2 linked regions of the Homo sapiens genome follow. The protein of the gene in region 1 interacts with the protein of each later gene in a pairwise test. Each region holds a gene or a part of one and is shown on either strand. Other genes may lie near its edges.

Region 1 (7,058 bases):
CCATAAAGATATCCAGAGACAAGAAGCTGTTGCTCCACATACACCATTCAGAAAACAAGGCAATTTTAACATCCCATGTTGGAAAAAAACAAAAACAAAAACAAGGCACACTTTTCTTAATTGGACCTCATTCAAATATTTACTGGGGAACATGTCTCCATGTCTCCTGGTAAAGTCAGGTAACTGCCTGCTTTGTAATGCATGGATTTTGCTTATGATGTCATAGACGTCAATAGAAATTCTACAGTTGAAATTAAAGATGAGTCAGCAAGGATGAGAAACATAACCAAAGCATAGAAGGAATGGGGAACCTTCTTAGGAGCTCAGATGCTTCATTCATCTCATGCAGCAATTCACATCTGTAAACAGATGATTAGGTGGTGCCCTTACCCCACATGCACCTTTAAAATGACCTAACGTGCTTTCCCCCTTCAGTGGGCAAGCTCATCACATAAATGGGCATGTTCCCGGCTCATGCCAATAATTCTTCCAGCGCCCCAGACTGAAGAAGTGTTGTCATTTAAAAGCAGCAAATGTGCTGTAAACATCAACCAATAGTAGTCTTTGAAGCTACAAGCAAGACACACTTCGCACATTGTACTGAGGTTGTCTGCCAGTGGGATTTTACCCCTCAAATCCAGGTATGGTCAGAGACAGAGCTCCATGAACTCACTTAACTTAGAAAAAAACATCGGGAACAGGCACTTGAAAGGGGAAACAAAACAGGTCTGTTACCGAACAGGAGACCTTCAAACGTGGCCAAATTCCATGATTCAAACAAGCAGTCATGATAAAGAATGTGTATAGTTTTGACTTCAGATAGAAAAAATATAACTAGAAATATAAGATTTAGAAAAGACTTTCATCTTTTTCTAGTTAAAAGCACCAAGTTCTCTTAACTGAAATGATTAAATAATTACACAAGTTGAATAATATTGTGCAGTTATGGTAAGAAAATAATTCTGCCATTAAGTAAGGATGACATTGTATACTAAGAACATTCATGTTTTCAAGACAAACCTGCCAACACCAATACTTAACAGATTCGTTTTAAATACATAAGAATCTGAGCTAACATGACCATGCACTGGTGTCTAAGGTAGGCTTAGCACATACCTAATTACTTATGACTGCAAAGTTAGGAGTCTTGCTCTTAAAATGCTCCATCTTATTGTAATACTTGGCCTCCAACGCTAAAAAAAAAGTTTCTTTCAATACAATTCAGACAGGCTGTTTCAAATAATCAAGGTCCTTATTAGAAAGAAAGCGCCAATCACATCTTGTAGCAAACAGGTGAGCAGAGGCCACTCTTGACTGGAAAACATCAAATTTAGCACCTTAATTAATACTGAGCGCAAAGGAGAGCATTTACTAGAATACGCGCAGTTGCTTTATTTGTTGACGTTATTGCCAATAACTCATCAAGTGGGTCAATCATGAAGTATGATGAATCCACTTCAACGCTTCCGCTATAATTACAATGATTAAAAGCAAGAATTGCTTTGCTCGAATGTCTGGAGAAAAATGCACAATCCCTAACCGTGGGAGGGCATCATTATAAAGCTGAAGGCAGTGACCAGACGGAAAGCCTGTGATTCCACAGCGCCTGCAGTTTTTACTGCGGTTTATTTCCAGGTAATCCCCGCATATTTTCTCGGGTTTGATTACCATGGGCAACAGTGGGATAGCTATTCATATTACAAAGTACTTCAAGAAACGAACACCCACATTTTACATGAAATTTAATTTTCATATTTTGTAGTAAAAGCCCAGAAAGGTGCTACTTGAATGAAGATGCACCTGTCTCTACATAGAAATCTTTTTAACATCACAGTAGCGACGACCACAGTCCTAGTTTAGAATCATTATTATGACGATAGGAATTTGTAGCAGCCCTCAACCCGTGGCCTTCTGAACCGTCTCTCCACTGTCCTATAAGGGAGGGCTAACTGTATTCCTGGTCGCTCCTGGGACTGGGAGCTCCTGGGGAAGGAATCCTAAAGGAGTGGTTGTCAATGCATTTTCATTAACAGCCGCGCTTCTCGGCAGCCTCCTAGGGCTGGGGTGGCCACGTGCTCCCTTAAACTGTTTTCACAACTCGAGGCTGTGCTGTGGGTGGCAACTTGAAGGTTTCCAAGAACTTTTCGTTTTTCTTTGGGCCAACATTTCTGTTTTCTGTCAATCAATAGTTTAGTTATTTAAAAATAAGAAGGTGAAGAGGGAGTTATTTAGGGTGGGAACCAGAATAGACTTCAAAAAAGAAATCCGTATTACCCAGTTGGCGTCCCAGCGGTTCCCCGAATGGCCTAGAGCCCCCAGCACCTGCCGAGGCCGCGCCATGCACCTGGCTGGGCTCAAACTGGCCAACTCAGACCTGGCCTGGGCGCCCGAAGGCTGCAGGGGGGACGCTCCGGTCCGAGCCACCGCCTGGGCCCGAAAGAGCCGCTCCTGGGAAGCAATGCCGGGCCAATCTCAAATCCCAAATTCTGGAAAGCACTACTTCCCACGCAGTAAAGGGAAGCCCGGGCGCCTCAAAACCAAACCTTGGAAGACGCTGGAGGAGCAAAGCCTGCAAGTTTCCAGTAAGACACTGGGCTGGAGGGAGCAGAGCGGCCAGGGGGCGGGTGCCCACTGCGTCCCGGGGCTCCGGCGCCCACCCTCCGGCCAGCCGTCCCCGGAGACAGGGAAGGGGTCGCGGGGAGCGAGGGGGCGTGGAGGGAGGAGGGGCGGGGGGAGAAGGGCGCGAAGGAGAGGGAAGGGGGGCCGGAGGTGAAGGGGCGCTGAGGGGCCGCACTCACCCGCGCAGGTACCAGCAGGCAGCCCTGGCGTCCGCGGGAGGCGGCCGGGGGCGGGGGTCCCTCGGTGCCCATCGCCGCCCCTGCGGCTGGGTCCGCGCTCCGGGCCGGCCGAGCTCAACGCCAGGACCCCGTCCGAGCCTCCCAGGGCCCCGCCAGGCGCCGCGTCCGCGCCCGCGCCCCTCTGCCGGCTCCGGCTCGGGCTCCACCGGGGCGCAGGGCTGGGGAACCGGAGCTCCGCCCGCCGACCCGGAGCACCGCCCACGCAGACCCGCCCCGGGCGAGGGAGGGGCCGGGCGCGCACCCGCGGGGAGGGCGGCGAGCGGGGATCAGCCGAAGTCGGGAGAGGGGCGCTTCCACGGGGCGGGAAACTGGCGCGCGACTCTGGGGGAAGTGCAGGATGGGGGGACAGGGGCGCTCCCGCGGGGGTGGATGGGGGACCATAGCGGGGCTGGCGGGGCAGGGGCCGGCGCACGAGGCTGGAGGAGGGGAGCGCGCGCTTCTACCCGGGCTGGGTCGCCGAGGTCCGCGGCGCATCGTGGCGGCGGTGGGCGGAGGGGGGCGGGGGGCACCTCTTCTCCCTTGTGGCGCAGGTGGGCGCGCTCTGGACCGGCTTGACGACCCCTCCCCGCCGCCCCACCTCCCTGGCCAAAGGTTCTCAGCTTCTAATCAGGGACATTTCTAGTCCACAGCCTCGAAGCCATGGGTTCTCCCCGGCCCTCTGAAGCCGCCACACCTGTGCCAGCCGGCCGCGTCCTCAGACCTTTCCCCGCGGAGTCTTCCCAGCACTTGGAGACGCAGCGCAGGGCCCCGAGGACGGCCTGGCCCGGAGAAAAGATACCGAAGCTCCAACTTTCCCCAACCCCGCTCCCCTCCTCCTTCCACCCTCCCTTCCCGCCCCCAAAGCTCGGGGGTCCTATCCCTCCTCCGGTCCGCGGAGTCTCCCGAACCCTGCGGGGACCCGGCGCTCGGCGGTGCCCTCCTGGGGCGCACGGGGCTGGGGCGGGAGCGAGGAGACCAGGTGGGGAGGGGACCCCAGATCTCAGACGCCAGGGGAGACGGCGTTTCCCGCTGTTCATTCAGGTTTGTGCCAAAAGGAGCCTCACAGATGCAGTATTGGGTTTGGTAGACTCAAATCGTCTTGTTTTAATGTAAATGAAAGTAAGTTTAGGATAAATTCCAGTGCGGCGGGGGCAGGCAAGGCTACCCACATTTTTTAAAAAGAAGCCAGCCCGTATTTTTCTCCCTTTCCAAATCCTCCGCCCCCCAGTCCTTCGACCCAGGCACGAGCGCCCATCGCGGAGGCCACGATGCCCGTTTTATTCCCTCTCCACGGCAAGGAAAAGCAGCGAAATCTGAGGTCTTCAGAGGTTAACCCTATCTAGGAGCAGAATGTGACGCATTGTAAACAAATAAATATTGAAAACTCGATGTTAAACACTTTACTTTTTCTGACTCCGACTTGCTTGACCCCTGAGCAGACCTGGGTTTCGAACACAGACGCCCTTCCCCATTTCTCTATTCTCTGTATTCCTGTTTCACCTTCACGGCAGTCTGCCAGCACTTCTTAGCACTCAGTTTAACCAGAGGACAAGCTCTTGAATAGCAAAAACCAGGTCTTTTTATACGTGGCACAGTGGCTGTTACAAAATATGCTTCTTGGGTGAATTGGTAAAAAATATTGTATTACTTTTTATTTGTAGCAAAACCTAGAATAAGAAAAAGTACAAGAGATTATTGTTTGCCTTTAAATTGCATTTTTAAAAGAGCGTGCATATAATCTCTGAGAAATTAAATGTCTACAAATAGCACAAAGATATTGTCTCATTACCTTGCAAAGGGACATTCTATTCCAGGGCCTGAAGAAGGAAAAACAGCGTGTTGCATGCATAAATGTTGACTTTGAGAGACAAGTTTTTGTTAAAATTTTATCGTTAAATGAATAGACACATATATTTTTGTTTTTCAGACCAAAGGTAATTGTTAATTCATTTGTAAAATAATGTAGTTTTGGCTAACAATCTCTGGAATCCTTTCTATAATAAAATTTTGTGATTCCAGGACGTCGTAGGCGCTCTGGGGCTGCTTTTGAAAGGCTAATTAATTCAAGTTTTAACTGCCTATCTGCTTTTATGCATCTGTGTCAGGACTGCACGTAAGGGTTATTTTGCTTATTTTAAATACTAGGGTTCTACTGCAATAACAATAACAATAAAAAGTAAAACCCTGACTATCCTGAAACTCTGCGAGGGAATGTCCCCCATGAGGTTACCAAAATTCAACTTTCTGGTTTTTGTGATGAGTATAGCTTTGATTCTGAGATGTGTCTAAAACCAGTTGCAGTTAGTGTCTCTTTATTAACTTTTAACTTTGAAATAATTCTGAATTTACAGAAACTTTCTAAATGTAGTACAAAAAACTCCAGTAACCCCTCATCCTCATGGGTATGTTCCAAGACCCCCAGTGGCTGCCTGATACCGTGGATAGTACTGAACTATGTATGTGTGTATATATATGTATCAATTGCATGCATATATATATGTATCAATTGCATGCATATATATATATATATATATATGCATATATATGTATGCATCAATTGCTGACCAAACTGATGTATGTGGCCTAGACAAACTGGAAGATGCCCTGGTCAAAAGGCAGGAGCAATGAGGTTGTATTTCAAGGTAAAAATACAACCTTGAGGCCGGGCACAGTGCTTCACACCTGTAATCCCAGCAATTCGGGAGGCCAAGGCAGGTAGATTGCTTTGAGCTCAGGTGTTTGAGACCAGCCTGGGCAACATGGTAAAACCGCGTCTCTACAAAAAAATACAAAAATTAGCCAGGCATGGTGGCATGCACCTGTGGTCCCAGCTACTAGGGATGCTGAGGCTGGAGAATCCCTTGAACCCTGGAGGCGGAGGTTGCATTGAGCCGAGATCATGCCACTGCGCTCCAGCTTGGGCGACAGAGTGAGACCCGGTCTTAATAATAATACAACCTTGGCCTTGTCATTTTTATAGTCAACATATTCAGAATGGCCAGGTACATTGTCTGTTACTAATGAGACTTTATATTCCAACCTTCCCCCTTCCAAGGCTTTGGGAGGAAGTACTGGTGGAGCCCTTCCATAAACATGGTGGTTACCACTCATGCTTTCTGGTTATGTTGCCTGAACACAAGCAGGTAACGTTTGTTTTTTGAGCATAAGTGTTCCTCTGTGTGTGCAGCACACCTGGCTTGGCCACACGTCCTACAGCATTGCACACGGCACAGGGTAAATCAGCCCTTCAGTGTTTTATGCCCTGGGGCCTTCTTTGCCCTTTCAAGAACGTAGGTTCTGTTGGGTATCTTCTTCCAGAGGAGCCTGGTCTCACTGCAATTGAAGACTTGCTTTGGATGGCATCCTTTCCCTTTAATCAACTTCAACTCTGCCGGAAATATGGCAGCAGCTTCTTCACTGGCAAACACAGCCTCTCCAGTTTTTTGGTTTTTGGTTTTTGGTTTCGTGACAAGCCCACTCCTAAATCAGTGTAGCTATGCCTCACTTGCCATGAATGGCTCAGTGTCACTCACTTTGGGGGACTGACTGCTGAAGTCTTCCCATGGGATTGTGCTTTCTGCGCTGACGTGCCCTCGGTGGGAACACCTTTCCGCTCATGTCTTCTACCTACAAGTTCAGCGTCTTTTCCGTCTTAAATAGGCACTTATCACTCACTGCAGCCGTAACGTTTGCAGTTTGAAATGTGATAGCAAAACTAGCATGATTTCTTTTTTATTTTTATTTTTATTTTTATTTTTATTTTTTATTTTATTTATTTATTTTGAGATAGAGTCTCACTCTTGTCGCCTAGGCTGGAGTGCAGTGGCGCGATCTCGGCTCACTGCAAGCTCTACCTCGCTGGTTGAAACAATTCTCCTGCCTCAGCCTTCTGATTAGCTGTGATTACAGGCGCCCACTACCACGCCAGGCTGATTTTTTTGTATTTTTAGTAGAGATAGGGTTTCATCATGTTGGCCAGGCTGGTCTCAAATTCCAGACCTCAGGTGATCCGCCTGCCTCAGCCTCCCAAAGTGCTGGGATTACAGGCGTGAGCCACCATGCGCAGCTGGGTTTCATTTTCGAATTAACTTAAAATACTTTCTGGACTGACAGCCTTGTGGGAACATCCTTTATATTGCTTGATTTGCTAACTGAACCTATTCCCCCTCCAGGCATAGTCTTATTTCTGCAAGGAAGACCTATTACCTTCCTGTTTCACAC
Region 2 (7,034 bases), on another chromosome or scaffold:
CATTTGTCTTATCTTTTAAATTGACTAATATGCAAAACAGACCAATAGCTTCACTTTAATGGCATTTTATTGGCTTGTGTTTATATTTCTGTATGCAGTTCTTTTTAAAGTGATGGGGCAATACAAATAAGCTCAGCTAAAGCTCTTAGTAGCTTCGTCTCATTATTGCTTCATAAAGATCCTTCTCCTGGGCTGGAGAGTTTAGGGAAAATAACTGAAGTCTGAACTTAGAGTTACTAACTGCTTTCATCTTCTCTTGGTTAGAAAAGGTACTAATTCAGAAATAAATTTGGGCTATGAATAAGGTAAAGAAAATTAGGCAAAATGCAAGATGATAGAGCAGTATCTTAAAATTTGTCTTGAAAAGTCAAAGTGTTTCATGCCTGTTGCTTACTCACTAATGTTTCAGAAAAAAAAAAATTGTAAGGTCAGGCATGGTGGCTTATGCCTGTAATCCCAATACTTTGGGAGGCAGAGGCAGGAGGATTGCTTGAGCCCAGGAGTTTGAGACCAGCCTGGGCAACATGGCAAGACCCCATCTCTGAAAAAAAAAAAATTAGTGAGGCATGGCAACACAGCACACAGCTGTAGTCTCAACTATTCGGGGGGCTGAGTTGGGAAAATTGCTTAAGCCCGGGAGGTCAAGGCTGCAGCGAGCCATGATTGTGCTACTGCACTCCAACGTGGGTGACGGAGCGAAACCCTCTCAAAAAAAAAAATTGTGTAGATAGTTATAGAAAGAATGGTTAATAAAGCAAGCATGATAAAATGTTAATATTTGGGGAGTCTAGGTAAAGGGCATACAGTAATTCTTTGTTTTGCAACTTTCTTATGAGACAAATTATTTCAAAATGAAAAGGTACAAATGAAGGATTATCTAATGTCAGTTTTTGTCGGCTTTCTCATTTAGCTTGCTTCTGCAGTCATTGAAATCTTTGATGTTTGGCTCTCATTTCTTCTCTCCATTTTCTGCCATTTTTCTGGATGACTTCAATGCCTTCAAAGGTGGTACTTTCAGCACTTTGACTTTTTGATTTTCTCCACTCCAAGTATGTTCACTTTTAATTTATTTCATCAACTCATTTCCAGATGAGCCATACCTTGGACTTTGTCCTTAATACTGATTTTAGAAATTTTCTTCCGACTATAACATCTTGTCATTTCAATACAAGAAATGTCTCTTCATTTTTCCTAAATTTATTTCTTCTCCTCTATATCTATTCCTATTCTTCCTATTTTTATAGTCTATTAACTTTTTATTTCATCTAACTCTGGCTATCCTTTGGCAGTTTGCTACTTCGCATATCCCTACTTGACCTTTTTTGGAGCAAATGCCTTTGTGAAGTCTTCCTAGAGTCTTCCAGGTGAGCATTAGTATGTCTAGCATATTGTATGTATTTGGCCTCCATAGCCCAAGCATAGTCCTTATTATACTGTATTCAGATCATTAGATGAGTTTGCCATCCTCACTGTACTAGAGAGTCTTTGAGTGGAGTGTTTGTTTCTTATTCATCTTTGTTTTCCCAGTAGCTACCACAAGACATACCACACTGTAAGTTTTCAATGAACGATCAGTAAATTAATGAATAAATAAATTAGAAGAGTCAAACTTTTTATACAAATGTTTGAATACTAATATAGTGTAACGCAGGATGGCAGAGAGGAGAGCATTGAAAGCCTTCAGAGGATTTAACATTGATTTGCTGGAATCATACTTGCCAAAATAGTTGGTCAAAAAAACAAGACAGGCAGGAAAATTTTTATAAGTCAGCCATGTGTATTCTAAAGTAAAATTAAATTCTCAGACTGGGAGTCTGAGGTGGGAGGATTGCTTAAACCCAGGAGTTTGAGGCCAGCCTGGGCAACACTGCAAGATCCTGACCTAAAACATTTTTTTTAAATAAATTTTCAGTAGAAGAGTATGGATAGTCTGATTTGCAGAGCAGGCTCCAAATTTCTGATGAGCCTTTTGAAATAGAAATCTGAAAGCTTTTACTACTGAACAAAATGAGAAATATCCAGAAATAGAGCCATGTCACACAGTATGGGTTCTTTAAAAATATTAAACATTTATAATTAAATTTTAGAATGGAAGTCTGGAGTGTGTCAGAAATTGATGGATTTATTGTAATAAAACTTCAAGGGGTTATAATTACTAAGACCCAGGAGGGATCAACACAGAGTCTTCTTATTAGGAAGCTCTTATTGGGAAGCTTCTGCATCTCCTCTAAGATTGAAGAAGATAGTGTGGTCACAAGTTAAATAGTGGTAATTTATCAAGAGTTCAGGGGATCACAAAATTTCACATTAGGTTAAAGCCAAAGAAAGAGAACTATAAAACTAGTAAACAACCATTTACATTTGACAGTTTTAGGAACAGATACATCTGAAGATTACTTGTTCATTCTTGACAGCTCAAAATGCTTACTTGGTTTGCATTAGATGGTCACCATGCTAGTTTTCTGTAATAGGCTGGCATTAGTATAATGAAACTCTTAAAATCTGAATGACAAAAGTTTATAAACGGGCACTAAGGAAAGCCTCTATATCATTAACAGACCATGCTTTCTAACACTAACATAACATTGTAAGTAACTCAAATGAAAAGCAATCAGAAATAGTTACTGAAAGCATTATCAAAATAACAAACATTGCCCCTAGGGACATATTTTTAAAAAACTCTTAGGCCCCACATTCTTCAGTTTATGAAGTGCCATATTTCTTCAAAAGGAAAAAGGATGGTCCATGGACCACTGCCAACTATAAAAGCCCCCAGGTCCCCATGACAGCCCCACAACTGCTTCAGACTCTTAAGTCCCAACTCTTTTTGGCCTATTTGAGACCAAATTTACCATTATCTACAACTTATCCCAATGCTTATCTGATTACAGTAGGAGTAAGACTAGAAACTATATGTTTAAAGCTAAAGAGTGTTTCCAAAAATATTTATTTGACTGAATGATTTAATATGCAGTTATGGTGTTTAATATATCATGTGTTATTTGTTTGTTTAAATACAGACATAACCCACAGTTATCTTGAACAAGAAACTACGGGGATAAATAAAAGTACGCAGCCAGATGAGCAACTGACTATGAATTCTGAGAAAAGTATGCATCGGAAATCCACTGAATTAGTTAATGAAATAACATGTGAGAACACAGAATGGCCAGGGCAGAGATCAACGAATTTTCAGATCATCAGTTCTTATCCAGATGATGAGTCTGTTTACTGCACTACTGAAAAATACAAGTAAGTGCTCACAGCCTTAGATTTAGAAGGAATTGGGGCCAGGCGTGGTGGCTCATGCCTGTAATCTCAGCACTTTGGGAGGACGAGGTGGGTGGATCACTTGAGGTCAGGAGTTCGAGACCAGCCTGGCCAACATGGTGAAACCCTGTCTCTACTGAAAATACAAAAATCAGCCAGGTGTGGTGGCACATGCCTGTAATCCCAGCTACTCAGGAGGCTGAGTCATGAGAATCGCTTGAACCTGGGAGGCGGAGGTTGCAGTGAGCTGAGATTGTGCCACTGTACTCCAGCCTAGGCAACAGAGCAAGATTGTCTGAAGAAAAAAAAAAAAAGAGAAAGTTAGAATTGGAAGAACTTTTTCTCCCTCCCTTCTTCCCTTTCTTCCTCTTTCCTTCTTTCTTTTTGGTGTTGGCTAATTCTAAACTTATTAGAACTTGGCGAATCTACCAGGGTTTTCTACTGTTTCCATGGTATGGATATAATATGTCTAGTTAACTAAGTGAAAAAGCACAAAGTGCATCTGAAGAAAGACAGGTTTAATTCTATTTTATTCAATATTATTTTCTGTGACCTTTCTTTATGTATTTGGAAATAACTGTTAAATTGATATACATGACATATCATTCATGAAAGTAAAAAACTGGCAGCTCCAGGACAAGGTAAGCCCAAACATGCATTTTGGTTTGGGTTAGCGCTATTTTTCATTTAAATGAATTTGATGCTTTTAAAAGGGCCTTGTTCTCTACCATTTGCATTCCTCATTATTTTACTTTCTCAGCTTTTACCCAGTAACCTTGCCTACCTAGCTCATGAAAGGATTTGAATTTGTGATACCTGATACTTCTACCCATGAGATTAAGGAACTTTGATAATTAGTCATGTGCTAGAAAAATATTATTAGATTTAAAAAGAAGTTTCAGTGACTAATATATTTTCAGTCTAGACAAAATAATATTTTGCAGCATACTATTTTTAACAGATTTTTGCATAGGAACTTTTATTCTACTTTCAAATTATTCAGTAGATATGTTAATAGATAGTAACATATAATGAAATAGATGTATTGATATGTTCCCATCCCTTTTTCAGATTCTTACTAAGGTGTAGGTTGGAGTCCCTTTTGAGGAGTAGAAGCACAGAAGAATGAAGTAGGGATAAACATTTTATAACCACATGGGTAAAGTAAATAGTAGAGATTGGGCTAAAGTCAGATTATGAGATATCTAGCATAATTACAACAGGAGATGTACGTGGTAAATAGAGCTGCACTGACTGTCCCAGCCGTCACTAAATTTCTTCTTAGTGACTCCAAAATTTACCTGTGCTTACAAATTTAATATAAGGCCTTCAAAAAAACAGCCCATCTCTTTTCCTTTCCCTTCCTTTATGGTGTTTGCTTACAAGTTGATACTGTTCTCAAGTAGCATACAAAATGTCAAAAAATTAGTTTATCTTACTCTGAAATGTTAATCAGTTTCTTTATTACAGCGTTATGGAACATAGACATAATGATATGCATTATGAATGTATGACTCCTTGTCAAGTTACTTCAGACTCAGATAAAGAGAAGACAATAGCATTTCTTCTAAAAGAATTGGATATTCTCAGAACAAGCAATAAAAAGGTATAATATGGAAAGTCTGATAATTGTATAGTATGGGTTTAGCTGTTGATCTTCTAAATTTCCTTTGTTGCCCATCATAATTCAGTTTTATTTTGCACTTTAATCATTTAACAGTAGCTTTATGTTTTTGCCATACCTTGCCATCAGGGTATGGTTGAGTTAAGGGGTTGAAAATGAAAGCATTTTTTTGATTTCATACCTTGCTGGTCCACATTAGCACTTCCTTTTTCATAAGCCCCTGGTTCCTTGTATACATATCTTTAAAAAAAAAGATTCAAGTTTTAGTAAAACTCTGCTTCAGTATTATAGAGAATGGGAGATAGAATGCACTGGTTTCATGTTACTATCTTAATTTTTTTTTCTTTATTAGTATCCATGCCCTATATTTGACCTCAATAATACATGTAATTAAACATTTCAGTAGCAAGGCTTGGCAATATTGTCATTTACCTTGTGTTAATCTTATACTGCTGCATTTTGTCCAGTCCAATTTGTCACGTTATGTTTTATCTTCTGTTCTGACTCTTATTCTAGTTATAGTCATGTGATCATTAAATAATTTTATTAAATAATGTGCATTTTCTGTGTCTTCTTTTTTTTTTAACCTCTACATACTGCTCTGATTTTAATATTCTAGTTGTGTAACCTAATCAAACTGAAGCATGATGTTAGGAATGTTGATCATGTTTGGAGGAAAACAACTAAAATGACAAAAACCTAGGGAGGAATTAAAAAAACATGTGGAGGGATTCTGTATGAGATGTTTTCTGTACTTTCATTTAGCAGTTATTTATTACATGCCACTTATGAGTCAGGTGTCAGTGTCAATTTAAATGGAATATGATGGGGTAGTATTCTCAAAGGGAGATTTGTATCAGATATTAAGATTATTGTCTTAATTTTGTTTCAGAATATTGGATTTACTAAGATAAACTGTAAAGCAGTGCTATCTGTTATTTTATTAGGCAAATCCCTTCCAAATATTTTGCATTAAGAAAAAAGGATGAATGAGACTGCTTTTGCAGTAGTCATTATTATTATTATTTTTTTTGAGATGGAGTTTCACTCTTGTTGCCCAGGCTGGAGTTCAATGGCGCGATCTCAGCCCACTGCAATCTCCGCCTCCTGGGTTCAAGCAATTCTCCTGCCTCAGCCTCTCGAGTAGCTGGGATTACAGGTGCCCGCCACCACACCTAGCTAATTTTTTGTATTTTTAGTAGAGACGGGGTTTCATCATGTTGGCCAGGCTGGTCTCAAACTCCTGACCTCAGGTGATCTGCCCACCTCGGCCTCCCAAAGGGCTGGGATTACAGGCGTGAGCAACCACATCTGAACTGCAGTAGTTATTTTTAAGAATAATGTTGGTCCTCTGAATTTAATTTGCCTGTTCATGCACATATACACATAAATTAAGTGTATATTGGGATGTTTTTACAATTTCTGTATAACTACAGGTAATTATTACTTTATAAATAACTTAAATTTTAAATTTTTTTCTGGAGTTATCTATCTAGGAAGTTAAATATAATATAAGAATTAAGAAAAAACCAAAAACTTTGAAATTAATTATATTTTTGCAAGACATTTGTCAAATAAGAATCCATGATTTTTTTCAATGTGCTTTAGCTTCAGCAGAAATTGGCTAAAGAAGATAAAGAACAGAGAAAACTAAAGTTTAAGCTGGAACTCCAAGAGAAAGAAACAGAAGCTAAAATTGCTGAAAAGACAGCAGGTATAGTAGAGGAGTATTAACACATGGCTTGAAGAATCACACACAAGGTTATTATATGATGTATCTTGGTGAATACTAGCATACTGGCTTATTTGCCAAAGGAGGGGAAGCTCTCCTTTTTTTTTTTTTTTTTTTGGCTGCTTAGAAAATAGGTGGCTTTAACATCCTGGTACTGGTATTAGTGAGAGCTTTACCTGTATTCATACTGATTTGGGCATTAAATGCATTGTTAACACCATGTCAATCCAATCACAAAAAGGTTGTTTGTTTTGTTGGAAGGGGCTGAACAAACAAGGGGAAATAATGATTACCAGTGCCTCTACCTTTCAACCAGCAGTTCAAATACCACTTATTGTTTTAGCTCGTTGAGAGGAAATACTTCTCCTTTGTATGAAGATAGTCACATATTCATTGCCAATGGAAACC

The links. Proteins that work in one complex are often made in the same cells at the same time.
Region 2: the proteins of SNTG2 (region 1) and MIPOL1 interact in binary tests that used the Homo sapiens proteins (3 or more experiments, as listed by UniProt).

Annotation. Positions count from the first base shown.
Region 1 is NC_000002.12:946,809-953,866, reverse strand, and holds the start of SNTG2 (gamma-2-syntrophin), read right to left. Parts: upstream 3,019-7,058; 5' UTR 2,871-3,018; coding exon 2,799-2,870; intron 2,583-2,798; exon of another isoform or gene 2,475-2,582; intron 1-2,474. UniProt on the Homo sapiens protein: Adapter protein that binds to and probably organizes the subcellular localization of a variety of proteins. May link various receptors to the actin cytoskeleton and the dystrophin glycoprotein complex.
Region 2 is NC_000014.9:37,263,918-37,270,951, forward strand, and holds part of MIPOL1 (mirror-image polydactyly gene 1 protein), read left to right. Parts: intron 1-1,289; exon of another isoform or gene 1,290-1,364; intron 1,365-3,020; coding exon 3,021-3,252; intron 3,253-4,740; coding exon 4,741-4,876; intron 4,877-6,502; coding exon 6,503-6,608; intron 6,609-7,034.